Regions from separate parts of the Homo sapiens genome. Here regions 1 and 2 are each reported to be linked to region 3. Evidence: microRNA targets listed by miRTarBase, many of them from high-throughput screens and not tested one by one. Region 3 holds a microRNA gene; each other region holds the end of a gene's coding sequence.

What was found. Region 3 holds the annotated microRNA hsa-miR-122-5p (UGGAGUGUGACAAUGGUGUUUG, at 3,863-3,884, shown strand). A microRNA usually pairs through its seed, bases 2 to 8, with sites in the 3' UTR of a target mRNA and lowers its output. Matches are read on the target gene's strand: a 7mer-m8 pairs with bases 2 to 8, a 7mer-A1 pairs with bases 2 to 7 and ends in A, and an 8mer does both.
Region 1: miRTarBase lists AP3M2 as a target of hsa-miR-122-5p. Seed matches in the 3' UTR shown: 7mer-m8 at 2,889-2,895.
Region 2: the mRNA of DCTN5 is a reported target of hsa-miR-122-5p. Seed matches in the 3' UTR shown: 8mer at 6,117-6,124 and 7mer-A1 at 455-461.

What each region holds. Positions count from the first base shown.
Region 1 is chr8:42,167,823-42,175,019 of GRCh38, forward strand. AP3M2 (adaptor related protein complex 3 subunit mu 2) reads left to right here. Exons shown (of 9, transcript NM_006803.4): 9 at 1,139-3,361. The coding sequence ends at 1,239. It overlaps PLAT (plasminogen activator, tissue type), which reads right to left. Exons shown (of 14, transcript NM_000930.5): 14 at 6,896-7,197. Among named protein-coding and RNA genes, the nearest start is that of AP3M2, 18 kb to the left of the region's middle. RefSeq lists enhancers at 3,829-4,123, 3,903-4,404, 4,405-4,904, 5,552-5,631.
Region 2 is chr16:23,666,356-23,673,552 of GRCh38, reverse strand. DCTN5 (dynactin subunit 5) reads right to left here. Exons shown (of 6, transcript NM_032486.4): 6 at 1-6,506. The coding sequence ends at 6,409. Among named protein-coding and RNA genes, the nearest start is that of PLK1, 8.9 kb to the left of the region's middle. RefSeq lists an enhancer at 2,910-3,139.
Region 3 is chr18:58,447,226-58,454,422 of GRCh38, forward strand. MIR122 (microRNA 122) reads left to right here and starts at 3,849; the gene lies at 3,849-3,933. MIR122HG (MIR122 host gene) reads left to right here. Exons shown (of 3, transcript NR_170245.1): 2 at 2,084-2,315; 3 at 3,594-4,056. MIR3591 (microRNA 3591) reads right to left here and starts at 3,927; the gene lies at 3,855-3,927.

The DNA.
Region 1 (7,197 bases), not on the chromosome of region 3:
GAGCTCAAGAGGCTCCAAAGGGAACAAAAACGGCTTTCTGCCATATGGCGCAGGCACCAGGAAGCCTTTCTGGGCTTCCTGTTTACAAGGTTTAGTTTCATTACCTGATAAACAATCTTTAGTAACATCTTTTCTGGCATGTTTCTGGGGAAAATTTACAATCCTTCCTTTGAAGTTGGCATAAGTGACCTGAATAAAAGTGCCTAAGACACACTGAGAAAGAAACAGTATTGGTAGAAGGAAGTATTCACTAGCCATTTTTGGATCATCTTAGGGTTGTTCATTTCAGGTTCCCAAGGTTTTCAGTATGAGAATCCATGTGCATTCTCAGCTATAACTGAAGTGTAATTTCCACTCCTTTCTTCTGTTTTCAGAAGACTTTCATGTTTGCTCTTATTTCTATTTTGGAACCACTGGGCCTTTCCAGGTCAGTTCACTATAGTCTGTGCCGACCTTAGCACGGTAGTCATCAGTTACCACTTTGGGGGCATTTACCATGTTCCAGGCACTGTTTTAAGCTCTTTTCATGTGTTTTCTTTTTTAATCCTTAGAAACTCTGTGATGTGGAAAGGAGATGACTTTAGCTTTATATGAAGTTTCTGTTTTTCTGTACAAACGGGCCTTATACAATTTAAGTGATTGGAATTCATTTGATGTATAAGCTCTTCAATCTTAAAACAATAAACTATAAAGCTCTATACCATATAAAATATTCTTGGCTTAGTCTAGTGAGAATACTTAGGAAGCATTCATTTATTAATTACTTTCATTGTTAATTCCTTTATTTATAATTTACTTCATTATTCATTTGTTTTGTTATTCATTTTTTCAGTCCAATAATTTGAGAAAAATCATGCAGTGGTCTAATTTTTTCCTTATCCTCATTTTAGTCTGCACATTACTTTGTACCCTTTCCACTTCAGGGACAGGTCTTCTCATAGGTAGCTTGTCTGTTGGAGCCTTTTTTTGCTGTCAGTATCTGTCCCAAGACTGGAGAATCCATCTGCTCTGCATAAGTGGTTCCCTGTCACAGCAATGTCGGTCCCACTGACTTCAGTGTATTGAACAGAAACAGTTAGGCGACCTGCTCCTTTTGAATAATACTCATGTCTATTTTCCCTCTCTCCCTCCTTTCTAGGACTCAAGGTGAATCGTCTGGATATGTATGGAGAAAAGTACAAACCCTTTAAGGGCATAAAATACATGACCAAAGCTGGGAAGTTCCAAGTTCGAACCTGAAGGGAGCATTTGCTGAGGGAATAGTCTTGCACATTTTTTCATTTCTTACTTGTCTAAAAGTAAAAAAAAATATCAGCCTGTCTCCTAGGTCAGTCCCCTCCTGGACCCACCCGCTCCCTTTTTTCCTTAGCCTTCAGTGCCATGGAACTAATCAAGGGAGGAAAAGGTCACCAGGGAGAACTGGACAGAACTGAAACACAGCAACACCAGTTCTCAAGGACAAGGTGTGTGATGGGGGTAGGAAGCTTGGTGCTTATGTAACCATTTTAAACGTGGTTTCTATAGGAAAGACCAACATTTGTTTAGCTTGCTTGGCTTTAATTATCTAAAGCCAATGAAAGACTTCTTTGTTGATTTTTTAAGATAGAAAGATTAAAAAGAAAGAAAGATGGGAAGAAAATGAATGTCAGTCAAGGAAAGGCCACTTAAGGATCTGCTCTATGAAGGAGAAGAAAGAGGAAAAAGAAGTAAAGGAGTTAGGAGGAGACACTTAAATGAAAGATTGGCAAGAAAAGCAGTCGGACTCTACCTTAAGGAGGGATGGGAAGGAAAGAGTTGAGTTGGTTTCTTTCTGATTCCTCTACTCATGTAGAAAACACTTGTACTTCTGGAAATGGACTGGAGACTTTTTAAATTTGAGTCCACTATTGACATGGAAACCCCAGTGGAATCAGATTTTCCCTCAAAGACCATGATGGTATCGGACTAGTTTTCAGACACTGCCTGTTGCTGTCCATCAGCACTTGGTCTCTTATCTTCAGTGAGAAGGTGACCCGCCTTCTTCCCATGGTGGCTGCCTAAAGTGCTTCTTTTCTAACCCAAAACAGTTCTACTCACTTCCTTTTACAGAATTCACCGGCCATTTTCCTGTTACCTGATCCTTCTACAGGATTTTTAAAAAGTAAGAGAGTTTCAGAGAAGCCGATCCCATAATCCCCAGTGCAGCCAGGGTTTGTGTGTCATCGTACTGGAGTAGAGGGCCGACTCTTCCCATGAAGGTGAGCACAGCTGTGAGTGAGTGAGCTCATATCTCCATTTGTCAGTGCTGGACTGGTACCAGATCGTAACCTTCCCGTTGGTCGGAAACTTTTCCATCTGTCGCCCTAGAAAAAGAGAAAGCTTACCATCGAGGGTGTGGTTGATCCTTGAAGCTGCTTGGTAAAGTTATCATTTCCTCAGTCTTTTCTTTTGTACTCCTATCATGTATTCATTAATATCTACCAGTCCCTTTTCATTCTAAGACAAAACATTTCTCCTAAATCTCTGAATAAAATCAGTGCTGTAGGAAGATGGACTGTGTTGATCATGGGTGTAAGCAACCCAGTTTAAGAAACATGGCAACTAAAGGGATACCTCAGGCTTTCTTTCCCAGTGGGTCATTTTTGTCCTAGTTCAGTGTGTCTGTTACTATTTAAATATTTATACAAAAGGGTTTTTGTTTATAGCTTAAGGAATGATACTGTGCTCTGCTTGGTGCATGGAGAAAAAGGAAGACCCGTACTCTCCACACCCTAGAGCTTTTCTCTAAATATTGTGCAAAGTTTTTGCTAGTTTTATCTTCTGACTTTGGGACTAGTTTTTGCTGCAGAGTTGTGTTGCTTTGTGATTTTCCTCTGGGATAGTGTACTGTACACAACCAGATGTGTTCCACACTCCGTGACTCCGCAGTTTGTCCTGGAGTGACATACACATCCACCATGGAAAGGGAAGCATCTCTGCCTGTGGATTCTCAAGTACTTGGAAGCACCTCTCCTGAGGAACCTACAGGATTCTAAGGTTTCCTAGGTCACTGAACAACTAATCTTGGTCCCTGAATATTTCTAGGTTTGTAAGTGCAGCAGTTTTATTTCCTCTAGAACTCATCCTGTTTCAAGGGAAGTACCTAAGAAGATATAGAGTGTTTCTAGGGTAAGGGACCTGCAGGTGTAAGCATAGATGAAATAACTGTCCTGTCACATGTGCAGCAGGCCATGGAGTGTAGCGGGCATCGCTGCCGCCATTCCTGCAGCATCACCATAAGCAGTGCAGGGTGTCTCCATCGAGCTGTTTGGTTCCATGTGTGTTTAACATGTGCAGAAGTAGCTTCTCTGTTTAAGTTTAATAAAGTTGAGTTTCACCAGTCTTCTATGTCCTAAGTGGTTTGTTACCAGAACTAACAACAGTGCTATGCCACTCAAACCTCAGTAGAAGCAGTGAGTAAGGAATTCATCGACTCAGGAGGATCTTACTGCTTCTGTCCTGTCTAGCCAGCAGACCTAAAGCATGTGTTTTGATCGATTCTTTGGTCACATCTGGAAGATAGCAGATGCTGATATTAATGTCATTTTTAGGGTTGTGAGCATAAGGTCCAGATCCACCTAGTTATTTTTCACCAGAGTTTTAAAAGACGAAATCGTTGAAGCTGCCGGCATTTAGTCTAGGGCTTTCCGCATTCTCTTGACCTGCTTCTCTTGTCTTGTTAATTTAGGCATGAAACGGTGTCGCAGTACTCTGGCGTCTTTATTCCAGGAGAGGCTTCTTACAAGATAAGGCACTGCGAGTCGATTGTTACGCCACACCTGTAACAATTTTCTATAAACATCTCATGGCCATCAAAAAACCTTAAAACTCAATGCGTACTCACTGTGAGTGTTCAGTGCCAGCTAGTGCTCCACCCCTTCTCCCTCTCAGCCGGCGTCAACTGTCTCTTCGCCTGTGCTCCCGGGTGCTCTGACCCTGGTGGTGGGACAGGAAGTTGGTTGTATACATGTACTTTTCTCTGTGGCCGGTAGGTGGGGACTCCATGCCATCAATACTCATTATTTTAATGGTTAGATTTTTTTTTTTTTTTTTTTTTTGGGGGACGTAGTCTTGCACTGTTGCCCGGGCTGGTGTGCAGTGGCGGGATCTTGGCTCACTGCAATCTCCGCCTCCTGGATTCAAGCGATTCTCCTGCCTCAGACTCCCGAGTAACTAGGATTACAGGGCGCCCACCACCATGCCCAGCTAATTTTTTTTTTTTTTTTTTTTTGTATTTTTAGTGGAGACAGGGTTTCACTATGTTGGCCAGGCTCGTCTTGAGATCTGCCTGCCTCGGCCTCCCAAAGTGCTGGGATTACAGGCATGAGCCATTGCGCCTGGCCAACTGTTAGAATTTTTTTTTTTTTTTTGAGGCGGAGTCTCACTCTGTCGCCCAGGCTGGAGTGCAGTGGTGCGATTTCGGCTCACTGCAAGCTCTGCCTCCTGGGTTCACGCCATTCTCCTGCCTCAGCCTCAGAGTAGGTGGGACTACAGGAGCCCACCACCGTGCCCCGCTAATTTTTTTTTTTTTTTTTTTTTTTTTTTAGTAGAAATGGGGTTTCACTGTGTTAGCCAGGATGGTCTCGATCTCCTGACCTCGTGATCCACCCGCCTTGGCCTCCCAAAGTGCTGGGATTACAGGCGTGAGCCGTCGCGCCTGGCCCTGTTAAAATTTTTAAAAGGAAATTTGACCAGCCTGGCCAACATGGCAAAACCCATCTCTACTGAAAAATATAAAAATTAGCTGGGCCTGGTGGCGGGCACCTGTAATCCCAGCTACTGGGGAGGCTGAGGCAGGAGAATCGCTTGAACCCGGGAGGCGGAGGTTGCAGTGAGCTGAGATCGCACCACTGCACTCCAGCCTGGGCAAAAAGAGTGAGACTCCATCTCAAAATAAAATAAAATAAAAGGAAATTTAATTTCAAACTCTGAAACTTCCTCCAAGATCCTAAGTACTGAGGATTGCATGAGTCTTTGGCTTTTGAAGTTAAGTGGAGTGAAAAGTTTATGCACTTTCTGATAAACAGACATGACTGGGGCTCTGGGAGGGTACAGTGTCACCATCCCAGAGTTCCTCTAGGTTTTCACCCAGTAAGAAGAGTTGCACAGGTACCTGGAGATCTTGTTCTCCTGGACTGTTACCATCTGCTTGTTTTATTAACTAGCTGGGAATAATGAGGAGATGATATTTAATTTCCCCTGACACCCATTCCCGGTAATGATGTGTTGCTCTTTGAGCGTGTTTTAGAATTTGCATCACTGGGCTGGGGCCCCGTCTCTCAGTCAGGGGCCTCTTCTGAGCAATTGTCTCTATCTAGTCTGTGGTTCCAAGACTGCGTGGGAGGAATGCTGGGGCCTTTTTACCTCCCATTTCCATCCCCAGGGGCCTCACTGCCTCAGTTCATTTCATTAATCCTGAAGAAGAGCTTGTCCTGCAAAGGGGGAGGGGATGAAACCAGCTGAATTTCTGCCGGAGATTCAGTGGCTGGGGGTTCCTTCGCACTGGTCCTCAGTGTTTTTTTTTTTTTCTTTCTTTCTTTCTTTTTTTTTCTTGACAGAGTCTTGCTCTGTTGCCCAGGGTGGAGTACAGTGACACAATTTCAGCTCACTGCAACCTCTGCCTCCCAGGCTCAAGCGATTCTCCTGCCTCAGTGTTCCAAGTAGCTGGAGCCACAGGCGTGCACCACCACACCCAGCTAACTTTTGTATTTTAGTAGAGATGGGGTTTTGCCACGTTGGCCAGGCTGGTCTCAAACTCCTAGCCTCAAGTGATCCACCCACGTCAGCCTCCTAAAGTGCTGGGATTATAGGCATGAGCCACCGTTCCTGGCCTCAAACAATGTTTTTCTTAAATGGCTGAGACACACATCTGTCTAAAAACTGTAGAACATGCAAGTGAGCAGTCTGAAGTCAAGAAATCTGTGACTTAAGTCTCTGTGACCTGCATTTATTTACTGGCCTAGGTACTTCAACACTTCAGGGATGTCCCCCGCTGCCTCCCCCACCCCAGTCAAGCTCTTGGGAGTTAAAGAATCTCTTTCTTTTGTGAGTTTAAACGACTTTTGTTCCAAGAACCTCTAAACTGAGCAGTTCTGACAACTCCACCAGAGAGACGACCACCTTTCTCCTCTCTGAGGAGCTGTGTCAGCATATCCCCAACAGCAGCATTGCAGCATCCGATTTATTCTTGGAACTAGGATGTCAGTGAGAACAAAAGCTGCCAGACAGCAGCCAGGAATAGGGGTTGCATCTCGCGAGTAGAAAGTAGTCTAAGAGGGCTGGGTGCAGTGGCTCACGCCTGTAATCCCAGCACCTTGGGAGGCCGAGGCAGGCGGATCACGAGGTCAGGAGATCGAGACCATCCTGGCTAACACGGTGAAACCCCGTCTCTACTACAAATATGAAAAATTAGCCGGGCATGGTGGCGGGCACCTATAGTCCCAGCTACTCGGGAGACTGAGGCAGGAGAATGGCGTGAACCCAGGAGGCAGAGCTTGCAGATAGCGCCACTGCACTTCAGCCTGGGCGAAAGAGCGAGACTCTGTCTCAAAAAAAAAAAAAAAAAGTAGTCTAAGAGAAGCAGAATGCAACATTACTTAGATAACGTACTTGTGTGGACTGGTTTAGGGGTTCAATTTCTAATGAGCAGAAAATTAAGACAATGGGAAACAGATGGCCCAAATACCAGCTTCTAGGCCGAACCAACGGTTGGGATGTTGCTGTGTTAGCAAGGTCATGCGAGGTTCTTCCTCCCTATCCCCACAGCGTTCCTTTCCTGCTGTCTGCTTGCTTGCCAGCCACCCCCTGGTTAATTTTCCTAAGGCATGCCCAGTTCCTCACTTCCCTGAGCAGAATCTCCATGGCTCCTCGTTGCCTACAGAAGTCAATTAAGTCCAAACTCAGTTTGGTGTTCAGAGCCCCCATAATCTAAATTCCAGCCTATGTTCCTCTTCCTGAAGTTCACTTCAGACAAGCTCAACTCATTTCTCCCTGTACTCCCCTCTCTTGGCCCTCTACATATTCATACCTCCATGGAGAGTGCCTTTTCCACACCTGTCCACAGTCCACGTCTCACCCAGTTATTTTTTCCTTAAGATTCTATTTTTTCCTTAAGATTCCCCAATCCCTCTTGCAACTGAATTCTACTACAAGTCTGCCCTTTTGTGACCGGCTCCACTG
Region 2 (7,197 bases), not on the chromosome of region 3:
ACTGCGTCCAGCTAAGGTATGTTTTTTAAGCAATGAAATCAACCAGTAAAAACAAGTTCAAATATTTTTCATTCACACACTCAAGGCCTGCTGAGCATCCACTGCATGTGTTTTACTTGTTCCATTAGAAAGGTTTATTAAAAAATGGCGGGGCACAGTGGCTCATGACTGTAATCCCAGCACTTAGGGAGGCCAAGATCGCTTGAGCCCAGGAGTTCAAGACTAGTCTGGGCAACATGGTAAAACCCTGTCTCTATTTAAAAAATAAACAAATACAAGCAAGTTTTTTTTTAAAAAATGATATATTAAAGAAAATCCTCCTAATTCTCTTATGTCTTTTCATAGCTGTTTCCATGTTCTCATATTCCCATCCTTGTCAACATGGAATTTTTGTTGTTGTTGTTGTGGTTTTTTTTTTTTTTTTTGAGACGGAGTCTCGCTCTGTCGCCCAGGCTGGAGTGCAGTGGCACAATTACAGCTCACTGCAAGCTCCGCCCCCTGGGTTCGCGCCATTCTCCTGCCTCAGCCTCCCAAGTAGCTGGGAATACAGGCACCCGCCACCATGCCTGGCTAATTTTTTTGTATTTTTAGTAGAGATGGGGTTTCACTGTGTTAGCCAGGATGGTCTTGATCTCCTGACCTCGTGATCTGCCCACCTCGGCCTCCCGAAGTGATGGGATTACAGGCTTGAGCCACTGCGCCTGGCCAAACATGGAATTTGTTTTATACAGTTGCAATTATGGTCCATTAATACAATCTATTTGTATGTTATCAGTAACAGTAATACTAACAGTGAACCCTTATTAAGCATTTACTATGTGCCAGGCACAAGGCTAAGAGTTTTACAGAGATGATCTCATTTACCTTGGGTTACTTACCCAACCAAGGTTTATAGCCAGCAGGTGGCAAAGCTTGAATTCCAACCCAACTCTGCTGACTCCCAACTACACCCACCTGCACACTTGCCTCTTGGGCCTTGTTTGTCTGGCAAGTCCTAAATCCCAGACTCATTTGTTCACTTGCTTGCTTCCTCCCTCCCTCCCTACCAAAACACAGTATGATCTGTCGGTTAAACTCAATAGACTAAAAACTCCGGGTTCAAATGCTAGCTCCTCCATCACTAGCTGTATGACCTTGGGAAAGTACTTAATCTCTCTGTGCCTCAATTTCCATGTTTATAAAATGGGATAAAGTGCCCATTATAGTGCCCATTTCCTAGGATTCTATCCAGGAGATGATGTGCCTATTTCCTAAGGTTCTTATAATGAGATTCTGCAAGGACAGCACTCCAAATAGTACAGGCACATGGTTTTGACAGTTGTTTCTGTTATTATTGAAATAAAAAGAACCTATACCTGTTCCCAGGAAGCTCAGAGTCTCTCACAGGCCTTTTCAGTTCCTGGGGCTCTCATATTTCCTCATTCTCCCAGACTCCTCTGACCCTACTCTTCCTCAGGTTCTTACTGCTCCTGTGGGAAATCAGAAAGAGCAGCCAGCAGACAACACCAACTGAGATGAATGCAGCTGAAATGGCACAGGTCAGTATGGCCAAGAAACACCATGGGCTAATGTTCAGACCCATGGTATGAAAGCCAGAGTGGGTGTGAATTTCACTCCCATGTCTCTTATCTTGGATGGTTTTCATCTGCATGACCCATTTGCCCAATGCCCAATGGATGTGAAGATACAGAAAAGTCCAGGTACTGTTTTCAGGGAAGTAAGATGTCCTGTGCCAACTCTTCTCACTTCAGGGTCCAAGTCAGAGTGCACAAGGAAAGCAGGTGGGGCTGGCCCACCAGCAAAAGCTTCAGGAGAGCAAGGGATTGGCTGACTGGGCTGCAAGGGTAGTGTTCAAAGCCAGCTGCCTTGGAGGCCAAGATAGTGGAGGAGCTGCATAAAACATGGATTTTGCAGCCAAGTAAGAGCTGGCCTTGATTCCAGCTCAGCCATTTATTAGATGTGTGGCATTGGGCAAATTTACTTAACCTCTCTGAATATCAGTTTCCTCTGCTGTAAAACAGGCTGTGAAACTCTCACTTTTTTGACAGTTGGGAGGATTAAATGTTTGCACCCCATAGATACAAAACAAGGAAGGGTGATTTCTCCATCTCTTGTTTGTGGCGGACTGATTATAAAGGGCAAGATGTTTTAAATTTTATTTTAAATTTTAAAAATATGTAAGAATGCTATGCCTTATACTCTAAGGGGTTTTGCTCAAGGTGTATCACTTCCTAATAAAAGTGCCTAATAAACTGCCGTTTATTGAGTGCTCACCCTGAGCCAGTACTTATGCTTTACATGTATAAATGCATTTCAATCATCATAATACCCTATCCAACTTCCCCATTTTATGGATGAGAAACCTGAGGTTCCACGAAGTAAGATAACTTGCTCAAAGTCACAAGGCTAGCCAATGGCAGGCTGGGATTTGATCAGCCTGACTCTAGCACTCACACTCCTCACCACTATGATGGCTCTCAAAATGGGCCCCTCAGACCCTCTCTGTATTTTGACTCTTTGGCTTTCTCACTCACTAAGCTGTGAGATCCCTATGAGAAAGAACTGGCTCCATCTTAGTCTCCACTGTATCCCCAGGACCTAGGAAGTGCTTGGCACCTAGTAGTGGCTTGGAAAGCACTTGTTAAATGAATAAATGAGTGATGGTGTCTCTCTTCTCTGTGCAGCATATGGTGAGGGGCCCACCTTCTTACCCCTAAATGGAAGCAAGCACATATTCTACTAAAAGCACAAGCCCATTGCTGGGGGGCTCTAGAAGTGTTTCAGTTATCATGTACTTATGGGAACTGTAGAAGTTGGCGAGACATTTTGCTGAGACCAGTTCTGAAAAAACCAGGCCTTCGGACACGCTGTCCCAACACTGCCAGTATCATTTCAGGGGACTTGCAGCTCCATGGAAGCTAACCCCCAGGAGACCAGCCAGCTGGATTTGACTACCTATAGTCACCATCCAGGTTGTCAGATGCCAATTTTTTTTCAGGAGAACCGCTGAGGCTAGCCAGAATATGGCTGGGCAGCACCCTCTAGGCTCTCACTGGATAGAACAGGATACAGAGAAAGGCCTCCCTAGCCACCAAGACCTCTTCCTTATAGCTGAGAAACTTCCAAGGATATGTTAACTATGAACAATGTTTGTCTGATTAATTTCAAGTCTGCCAGATGTATCAGTGACTAAGAAAGGAACTGTGGCCTCAGATCCTGAGTGAAATGGTTCATGCAGAAGTGACTAATACAGAAGCCACCACCCCAACCCCAAATAACCACAAGGGCTCTGTGCAGCCATGTAAAACAGAATCAGTCAACAGGAGGCTCACAAGACAATCATTCACCTTTGTTCCCTGCAGCAGGTATCCTGCAATCTGAGACTTATCTTGAGCTGGGGTAAGGTCTGAGGCATGCTGGCAGGGTGTGTGAGGGTTGGGGGTGAGGGTGGTCACATCCAGGCAATCATTCTATTAAGGATGTGCTAGATGACCCACAGACTCAGGCCTGACTCCTCAGGAGCTCACAGTTAGTAGGGGTTCAGACAAGAACACAGGTACATAACTAAAACTCTATTGATAAGGGCGCCTCGGTAAGGTGCTATGGGAACCATAAGGATGCAGTTCCATGGCCCAGTCAGCTCATCTGGGGAAAAATAATAAAACAAAAAGGAAGCAGTTCCAGACAGAAGACCATCTCCAAATGGTTCTTTATTGAACACCCACTTTGGCTAGGCAATATCCTCCCCCTGCCCTCTAATCCAGGCTCAGGTACCCCCAGTGGAGTATCCTCAGAAGGCAACTCCCAAGACCAGGAGTAATGAGAGATTGGGCAGAGGGTAAGGGACAGCAGGGAGACGGAGGAAAATGAAGACACCAGGGAAAGAGGAGAGGCCTGAACTGGACAGCTGATGCTTTGTCCTGCCCAGCACCCATTCGTCCCTTCTTCAGGTAATATCATCTGCCACCACAACCACCAGCACCAACTCTCAGTCTCTGTGGGTACATGCCAGGCCTGTCCATTTGGTGTATTCCATCTTCCTGGCCACAATGATGACTTGAGGCTGGATACCTTCCTCGTCTGGACCAATGAGAACCAAATCCAGCAGTTCTGTCAGCAAAGGGGAGCTCTTTTTATCAATAACTGGTGCTGTGGGGCCACACTGTGAAGCCCAAGAATAAAGCCAACTCAAATGAAAGCAGAGCTGAGAGCCAAAGAGACAGATCCCTGTTTGGAGTCCTGGGATGCAGCCTGAAGCCCAATCTAGCCCATCCTTTTCAGCTACGTGAGCCATTAAATTCCCTCTGCCCCAAGTGAACTGGAAAGAGTCCCAACCAAGGTCCTTCCCATCTGGTTGTTCTTCTGGAAGTATTTTGAGGACAAGGAGATTTTCATCTCCAGGGTTATAAAAGTAATTGTGTGGTGACAGGCTGTTCCTAGGTCCCTGGGGTGAGAGCCACCATGGAGACAGAGTCCAGCTCGCCTTTCCTAGGATACACACTCACGACTGTCAACACATCTTCGAATACATCAGCACATAATTATAAACTCCTATTGTTTGTAGTAGCTATTGTTTTTGTCTTCCCATCACCTTGTTTTGGATGAAGAAAAGGTCATGACCCAGACTGGATTAATCATGTGGCCAAACATGCATGGCCACAGTGACTGATCCAAGAGGACATGGAACTCACAACAAACCATTGAGAACTTTGGGAGTTTCCAAATTCGAACTGGAAGGGAAGAAACCTTTCATTCAGAGCCCCCAAGCTAGGAGGATGCAGGTCTGGAGCTATCAGCTGTCATGGCTCCAAATGCACGGCGAAGGCTCATGTGCAGCAGGAGGAAAGGAAGCCAACAAAGAGGCCTGGTTGAGTCTGCTTGTTGTCTCCCAATGGCCATTCTTCCCCCACTCCTTTTTACTAGCAGAATCTCCTTCCTCAGAGTTTTGGCTGCCCAAGTAGAAACTAAATTTACAGCCTCCTTTGTTGCTAACTGTGGCCACATGGCAAGACAGTAGGAACCTGGGTGCCTGATGACATCATGGACCAGCCCCTTGCCTGGCCTGGACCAGCTGACTATCACTGCACTGTTATGGGAGAGAGAAATAAACTTCCATCTTGTCGAAGCTATGTATTTTGGTGGTTTTATGTATAAACATTTTAAAAATAACAAACTAGAAAGGAGTTCTAGATGGAACTAGTGGCAATGATTACATACAGCTGTTTTGTTTTGCAAACCCCACAACTGGATATTAAGTCAGGATAGCTCCTGCTAAATTCTAACCTCAAGGCTGAACTGTTCTGCCCTATTCACTTACAGATCAGAGCATTAGGCAAGGACAACCTTCTTAGCCCCTCACTTCTGAATCTTCCTTCTAAGCTAAGAGGTCAGAGCAGAACGAGGAAATGTTGTGCTATTTGGCCAGAAGGAGATGGTAAGAACAGCCCTAGTAACTTCATTTACTCCTGAGGCTCTGTGCCCACAAACTGATTCTAAGAGCCCTTCCTGTATATATGCGAATTAGCTCTAAGTACAGACATTTTGGTGTGAATTGTGGAGTTTATGGCAAATACAGGGTAGGCTGAATGGTTCTAGGCCAGGAAGCAAGAGTTCACAAATGCGGTGTCTTCAATGAAATAAGGTAAGTACCTTGAAGCAAGGAGTAACCACCTGACTAATGCATCCACATGAGAGACTCAAATCTAACACTTGGCAAAATTACAATCTGGGATACTGAGGTCCCCACTTTTAGTGAAAGCCAAAGGCCCTAGGTCAAAATGCTAAAAAGTCTTTTACTAACTATCCTAGGACAGCTAAGGTCATTTTGGGAAGAAGAGAGAAACACTATTCACCCCTCCCTTCAAGTTTTAATAGACAACAGGAATCTGGGCTCTGAAAAGTCACAAACACCTTTCCCAAGATGATGAGCAACTGCAACAACTGGCCAAATGTGTTAGCAGCAGAAAAGCTGGGCATTACCTGTGTGAGAGGCGCTCAGCATGGGCAGTGAATGGCCGTGAGCAGCGCACCAGCTACATAGCCTCCACACCGGAAGGGTGCTGCTGCTCTGCAGGTCCGTTTCAGGCGGGATCCAGCCATCCACAGGACCAAGGGGCTGGAGTGTTGGGAACAGATGATTCTGTGTTCCACAGATAATGGTACAAAGTGACTGTTCATAGATAAGGTGTAAGCACAGCATTTGAAGACAGCTCCTCCAGATGGTCTGTCTGTTAGTGAATTCTTAAGCACTTAGAGCCTTGAAGATTGAGAAATTCTAAAGAAATTTTTTAAAAGGAGGAGGGTGGTAGATGTCAAAGACACAAAAGCTCTTTGTAGGTGCTGACTGGCTCACTTTGTCCCCAGGTTCATCTTAGAGCTCAAGCAGATTCAAGACATGAGGCAGAGATGCTAGACTTGCGTCAGGGGCAAAAACTTCTGGTAGTAGCTCTTGGTGACGTCAATCATCAGCTCCTGAGTGCACTCCGGGAGCTCCCCTGAGAAGAGTCCTGGGGAAAGAAAGACCCAGCTCTAAGGAGCTTGAAGAAGTTACAAGAAGTTAAGATATTTCTCTGGCAATATCCTTCTCACCTCAATCAGATGCATGTCTGACAATCACTTAAATAATCGCTGAGGCTGTTCTGGTCCAGTGCTTGCTAAGAACAGCTAAACTTTTTCACAGCAGGACCCCAATATGGAGAAATTACTAAACAAAAGTCTCTCCTTCCTCCTCTGCAAAAGCAGAGATGCATGACACGGTAGAATGGCCAAATGCCTCCCCGAAGAATCTGAGTGATGATTTTGTTCATCTTAGAAACTCAGATTCAATGATCTGAGAGATGAGATTTATTTTTTAATTGGAAAAACAATTAAACCACTCAGTGGTAGGTATCATATACTGTCAAATCTCTCTGTTCATATTATTTTCCATCTGTGAATTTATGACGTGCCTCTGTATATGCTACATGATTTCAGCTGTGTAAAACAACATGGAGAAGAAGATACTGTCTTGGGGTAGGGCTAAGGGAATGTGAGGTTTTCTCCTTCCTTCTGCTTTTCAGTGTTTTCCAAGTTTTCTGAGAGAAGTACGTATCACTTTTGTTTCCTCAAGCTTTATAATTTGGAACTCCGGGCTCCTGATGGGCTTTACTTGTGAGCATTCTATCAGCCAAGGTCCAGAGATAATGTATTAATATTTGC
Region 3 (7,197 bases):
TAAATGGCAGTAAACGTGGATTCAGAGTAAAAAGCATCTCCACTTATCTTTCACTTTTTAAGAAATTTTTTTTTGGTACTGATGGGTTAGGTTTGCAGCAAGGTGACACTTCACAGTCCCCAAAGCACCCAAACCCCCTATGGGGTTGGCCCTAGAATGCTCTCAGCCCCTGGGAACAACATCTTAAAGCAAAGACAAGCTGCTCGTGCCCAGATCTGACCTGAGAAAGTGAGTGTTGCGATATTCCTGGTACTTGTGAATCTAAGACGTCACGCTGGGAGCTGTGGTGCATACAGAATGCGTACAGAGTGGTGAATTTGCTGGAGGGTCTGGCTTTGTAAAAGCTTCCTCCTTAATGAGCTTTTTTTCTCACTTATGAAAAGAAATGCAGGGCATTAAAAGAGGAGCAAACCAAATCTAGCCTGTTTTTCATACTCACGGATCCAGTGGGAAAGCTGCATTCTGAATTGGCCACAGCAGCTAGAGATGCCTGGAGATTTCATCACTGTTGGGAAGACGAGTGCAGGAAGATGACAGCACACAGAAATTTCGTGTGTGTGTTTTCTTTAGAAATGGGATCTCAAACAACTGGGCTCAAGGGATCCTCCTGCCTAAGACTCCTGAGTAGCTGAGACTCCAGGAGAAATTTAGTATTAATAGACTGCCATTCAGGAATGGCTAGCACTCTACCTTTCTCAGGGAGATCTCAGGAAGTAAGGCATAAAGAGAGATGGTGGGAGATTTATGTGGATGGGATCGGGGCCCAGGGAAGCTAAACAGAATCCCTCAAGGCCTTTTCCACACTGTAGAAAATTGTGCTGGCATTTGGACAAGTCACCCTGCTTAATATCAAACATCTTTGCCTTAAGCATTATTTTTTCAAAGGAAATAACGTGTTAATACTTCCCAACCAGTGTATAATGTTTCTATTTGTTATTAGCTCGTACTATTTAAGTTCAGTTGTTAAGTTTGAAAATACTAGAACATTAAAAATCTGCAGAATGAGAAATTATTTTGTGAATGTTTAAAATATTCAAAAGTGGATCCTGACACTAACCACTTTTAATTTATTTTACTAGCGATATATTATTGGATGACTTTTTTTTTTTAAAAAAAGAAAACCTTCTGCTTGTTTGTTTAAACTGCTTTGTAAATTGACAGTTTAACCACCTCTGCAGAAACAAAGTAGTAATAAAAGATGTTGGCCATTTTAGCAATGTTTAAAAATTGCTCACAAGACAGAAAATGATTGGCACTCAATATGTGTTTAGTGATTGATGCAATAATACCATAAAATTATTGTACTGCATAATAAAGTATTTCACTAATAATTTGCTAAAAAATTAGCCTGAGGCCTGCCACTCAGCACAGCACTAACTTTTCATGCTTGTGACAAGTTGTATATGAGCAGGATGGGTTCCAACCTTCCCAATTTCAGAAGAGTATTTTGCAAGAAGGAATTTGTATTGAGAGTCCAGAAAGAAAATTGCCTAAAAGTTTTTAAATCCTCATTTTTCTCAATAAAAAAGTGCCATATGAATCATAAATTAACAAATGCACACAAAAGGAGAAAATGAAAACAAACCATAATTTCTCTACTGAAAGATAACCATGGTTAACATTTGATGTTTTGGCCTCAGGCATGTATGCATTTTTTCACAGAAAGGGACTCATACTGTGTATATTGTTTTATAAACTGTTTTTTAATTCAATAACATATCTTGAATTTCCAAGTCTACCAGACTTTTCTACAGAATCAATTTAAATAATTATGGTCTATCATAAATATATTACTCTTCTCCTATAGCTGGACATTTAGGTTGTTTCCAATGTTTACCCTTATAAACAATGCCACTATGAGCAACCTTATAGGTAAATCTTTCTACAAATTTTTGACATTTTCCTGGAGATAGATTTCTGGGCCATAGAAATTGAGGTTGATTTGGGGTGGGGGGAGTTGGTAAGATTTACCTGTAAAGGTTGATTTGGGGGGTGGGGAGTTGGTAAGATTTACCTGTAATGCATTAACTTCCTCATCTCTTTTCATCTTCCATCTGTTCCTTCCCTTTTCTGTATTTTGCAGATTATTCAAAGCCAAAAGCCAACAGAGCCCCCATGGAGAAGTGGAGGATGCTCAGATACTGCTATGGAGCCCTGAGAAGTGAAATGGGTCCAAGCCCTTGCCCAGGATAGAGCGCTCCAAGCGCATCCTCCGGGGACCCTTTTAATCAGTGAATTGTTCACCTCTCACTGTTTCTTCCCAGCAGAGCTAAGAGACTTCTAGAGCCTCTTGTGGATGGTCAGCGATAGCCCTGGTATGACCAGGAGGTGGCGATTTCTGTTCTAGGTCCCTCAGCAAAGACTAAGCAGGACAAGCCTGGCTACTGTGTTAGGAGGAGCTGTAGGGAAAGGGAAGGACAAGATGGGCCACCACATGCCTGTGTCCACTGCTGGCCACACCCAGAGTGCTAGGGGTTTGTGGCAGTGACTGGGGCCACCTAGAGCAGTTCTAGGGTTCGTAGTCATTCTCTCTGAGTCATGGAAAACTGCCCAGGAGGCGAGTCCCACCTAAGAGAGTATGTGTAGCACTGGCACGGCCTGCTGCCTTGCAAATGACCACATTTCATGAAAGAAAGCCAGGGCCACAGACAGGAACCAAAGGAAATCAGTCACTTAGGGGAAGATAACGAATCCACAAAGTGAAAAAGGGAAAGAAAAAAAGAGGCAACTTCAACACTCCAACCCATGGGAGCAGAACGACTTTCAGCTTTCGCAGGGGGATAATCACTGCAAGTCCAGCTTGAAGAGGGTGATTTCAGGATCTACATGAGAATAAGGCGCAATTTTTTTTTTTTTTTTCTGAAAAATACGGAAGGGTTCATTTACAGCTGTTAAAGATGGGCCGGTTTTAGGGCTAAAGCAAGACTCTGGTCAGATGTTAACAACTCAGTTATCCTGGGGAAAAAATAACTGGCTCCCAACCCTTTCCCTTTTCAGCATTTGCAGGAAAAGAAGGAGTAGGTAAAATGCTTTATTTCCTCTCATTCTCCATGGTGGGCAGGAGTTCACATAACAATTATAAACCATCTTTAACAGGAAAGCCAAGTAAATCCTGTAGGGATTTATTTGGAGCTCCCTTTTTGCTAGAAAATGAGTATCATGAACTAAAAATGGACTCGTTTCCTCTCTCTCCATCTTCCTCTCTTTCTTCTCTCCCCTCATCTCCCACCCACCGCCATGGTGGAAAATGACTGTGGTCAAGAAGATTGAACATTTGAGCAAGACCAGATGCCTTTATATCCAATAGATGCCACGGAGAGTAGATCACAACACATCTAACTGCTGTATCCCCATATAAAATAATTTTAATTTTCCTAGACTGCAGAATTGATCACATTTACTGATGATGGATTGGGAAGTAGGTGAAGAGGTGAGAGTTGGAGAGTATCCATTCATTCGGCCAGATTATTCTCATTTATAATGTAGTCTTCCAATAAGTATTTATTTCCAGAAATCTATTCCCTCTAGAGATTCTTTCTCTCTCAGCCATTTTAGAAAATTGTTGCAAACAGAGTTCCTGTCCATTTTCACAGGAAGTTTTTGCAGAAGGGGTTTGCTGGGTGGCAGTGGAACACAGGCAGTGGACCCCTCTACTACTCTACTGTTCCAGAACACAGAAGCCTTTCATTGAGAGTGTTCAGCTCTTCCCATTGCTCAAGATGCTTGTACCCGTGATGCTTCTTTTCTCTGCTTAGGTCACAATATGTGGAGCTGACAAGGTTCCCCTATTATCAGTGACAATGGTGGAATGTGGAGGTGAAGTTAACACCTTCGTGGCTACAGAGTTTCCTTAGCAGAGCTGTGGAGTGTGACAATGGTGTTTGTGTCTAAACTATCAAACGCCATTATCACACTAAATAGCTACTGCTAGGCAATCCTTCCCTCGATAAATGTCTTGGCATCGTTTGCTTTGAGCAAGAAGGTTCATCTGATATCAGTCTTCTCAATCTTGTGTACTTACTGAATAAAGTCTGGCTCTTTTGCACTCATAACCAATATGGTTAGCTGAACCCTGCCTCTCACATGCTGTTGTTACATACCTTAGCTGGTGATTAATTTTCTTGTTTTCCCAAGTCAATAAAAAGATTGCAGACCAGGCACGGTGGCTCACGCCTGAAATCCCAGCACTTTGGGAGGCCAAGGCAGGCGGATCACTTGAGCTCAGGAGTTCAAGTCCAGCCTGGGCAGCATGGTGAAACCGTGTCTCTACAAAAACTACAAAAATTAGCCAGGCATGGTGGCATGTGCCTGTAATCTCAGCTACTTGAGAGGCTGAGGTGGGAGGATCAATTGAGCCCACGAGGTTGAGGCTGTAGTGAGCTGTGATGGTACCACTGCACTCCAGCCTGTGTGACAGAGCAAGATCCTGTCTCAAAAAATGAAAATAAAAAGATTGCAGAGTTCCTCAGAGCCCCCAACACAAGGCCAGGCACGAGGTAATCATTTAACCCATGCTTATAGACTTAAAATGAATAGTTAGGAAAGTGTTAGACGCAGAAGGCTAAGACTGGGCTAAATCTATGTTATGCAGACAGACCGCAAGCTTATAGGTACAAAATTAAGGTGTGTGGGTCCTTCTCTTTTCGTCGTTAAAAAATCCAACTTTCTAATAAACTTACACATGGTTTCACTGACGTTTCAGAAATTCTAGAATATGTTTGATTTCTACTGATTTCAATCAATTACTAGGCTGATTACTGAATTCGTACACTAGGCCTTTCTTCCTCTTGCATCAGTGAATTACCATCAGAAAATTGTTTATGAAGCATGTGTGAGCTGCCATAGCAAATCTGGGACCCATGCAGTTTCTAGGACAGTTGGCCCAGCCAGGTGCTCTGGTTTGGAACCCATTCTGTCTCTGAGAGGTGTCTAAAGTCAGGAGTAGGTTTCGTTTGTGCCAGACTAAAGCTTCCCTCCCCAGGCTTGGTTAAATGAAGTAGGACATGTTTAATCAAATAGACAGGGTTAGATCAACCATCAGAAACAAATTCAACCATTCAACCATTCACTTATGAAATAAATATGTGTAGAGACTACCGTGTGCCTGACACTGTCCTAGGCATTGAAGACACTTTTAAATTAAATGTGTCTGATGTTATTTCCAGAGATGGGCATTCACTGGCTCGCATTATATTTTGGGACCATTGTAATTGTTCCAAACGGGAGCCAAATGAGCAAAACTTTGCGAAATAATTCTGAGTCCCTTGCTGGAAAGCCTCACCTGAATGCAGCCCACACATTTATGATACACTACAAAGGCTTCAAGGTCATGAGATGCCTCTGTCCAAAGAAGAAGAAGAGCACCCCTGCCTGCCCTGCATCTCTTACCACCTCTCATTTCTTCCCTCCTGGCACCATCTACTGTCAAGAAGAGAATCAGACTCCCTGAAATAATTGAGACACTGACATTCCTTTTTGTGTGTATTTTTTTGGCAAAGGCTCTAATTGAACAGGCATTAATAGAGGGCTCTACTGTTATACAGATCACGCTCATGCACACTGTATTAGTCTGTGTTTTCATGCTGCTGACAAAGACATACCCGAGACTGGGAAGAAAAAGAGGTTTAATTGGACTTACAGTTCCACATGGCTAGGGAGACCTCAGAATCATGGCGGGAGATGAAAGGCACTTCTTACGTGGCATCAGCAATAGAAAATGAGGAAAAAGCCAAAGTGGAAACCCCTGATAAACCCATCAGATCTCGTGAGACTTATTCACTATCATGAGAATAGCAGGGGAAAGACTGACCCCCATGATTCAATTACCTTTCCCTGGGTCCCTCCCACAGCACGTGGGAATTCTGTGCGATACAATTGAAGCCGAGATCTGGATGGGGACTCAGCCAAACCATATCACATGCCATTTCATTTGATCCATACAACATGGGGCAAAGATGATCGGTTTGACAAACAGAGTCTAAAGGGTTCTGGAATCGTCTGGTCCTCCAGCCACAACTCAACATGGATCTCTTAAGTCTAAAGTTCTGTCCTGTACCTGCAGCCTCCTTTGGCCTAGTTATTTTGTGAAATCTCATGCTTCACAGTCGAATCTGTGTAGAACCTGGGTTAATCACGCCAGTATGCGATCAATATCCTCATCTCCCCATCTGCTTTGTCAGTGGATTCTGAGGGAAAACCTGTAAATTAGAGAGGGATGAGCCATATAAGAATGTCTCCTTGTGAGTGTTCATTGTGCAGAGAAAGCTGAAAATTGCAAAACCCTGTAATCATGAAATGAAAGAGAAGGAACATCTAAGTGGTAGCTTTGGGGTCAGGAAGAGGGTAGACAAACTGTCCCAACACCAAGCAGCCATCTACATGACCCAGCCACCTGATGTGGCACCAAATGACCCAGAGTCTTGAGGTTCTGAACTGTTCCCAGACTCGGGGACAATGTGAGGACTGGGTCTTCCATGCTCCTTTTCACTCCCACTCACCCTGAGATTTTTCTCAGGTGGAATTAAACAGGGAGCCAAGTGAATAGCATTCTGTGTCTTTTCTGCTAGGTTGGCTCATTTAATGGCTTATTATGATTGCTGCCTGGATTCGTTTTGCATTCGGGATTGGAGACCTGTCATTTCTGTAGATCTCTAAGGAACACACATAGAAGGCAAAGCTTCCCTCTCCCCTTTCTACCTCTAATTACAATCCTGCTGCTCCAAATCTCTGATGATGGCATCTTCCCAGACCAGCTTTTATCTCCCCTTCCCTCCCCAGGATGATTACTGCCAGTCATTTCCAATAAAGCATTCCTGGGGACAGGTACTGACTCTGAATATGGTTTGCAAGATGAAAGGGTTCACTTGGACGTGCAGTTAAAAATCACACTCGTGCTGGGGAGGCAGCAGAGAACACAGTCACCTTGACATGTTTTCTTCCCCGGGAGACAAGCCACTTGAGTCTAGCTTTGCTTTGTGGATCACACCATGGAGTCCTGATGAATCCTTTCATCTTAGTACAATGTGTACTTTGAATGTGAAAGTTGCCACTTGCAGCCTGTCCAGTGTTCTATCCAGCCCCAGAGGAAGTTTTGTGAAATAACATGGCAGTTAGCATGTATCGATGGCTTATCTACATATTTTTATGAACTCTTCTTAAACCTATATTTTCTGATTCAATACTTCATTGAATCAGAAG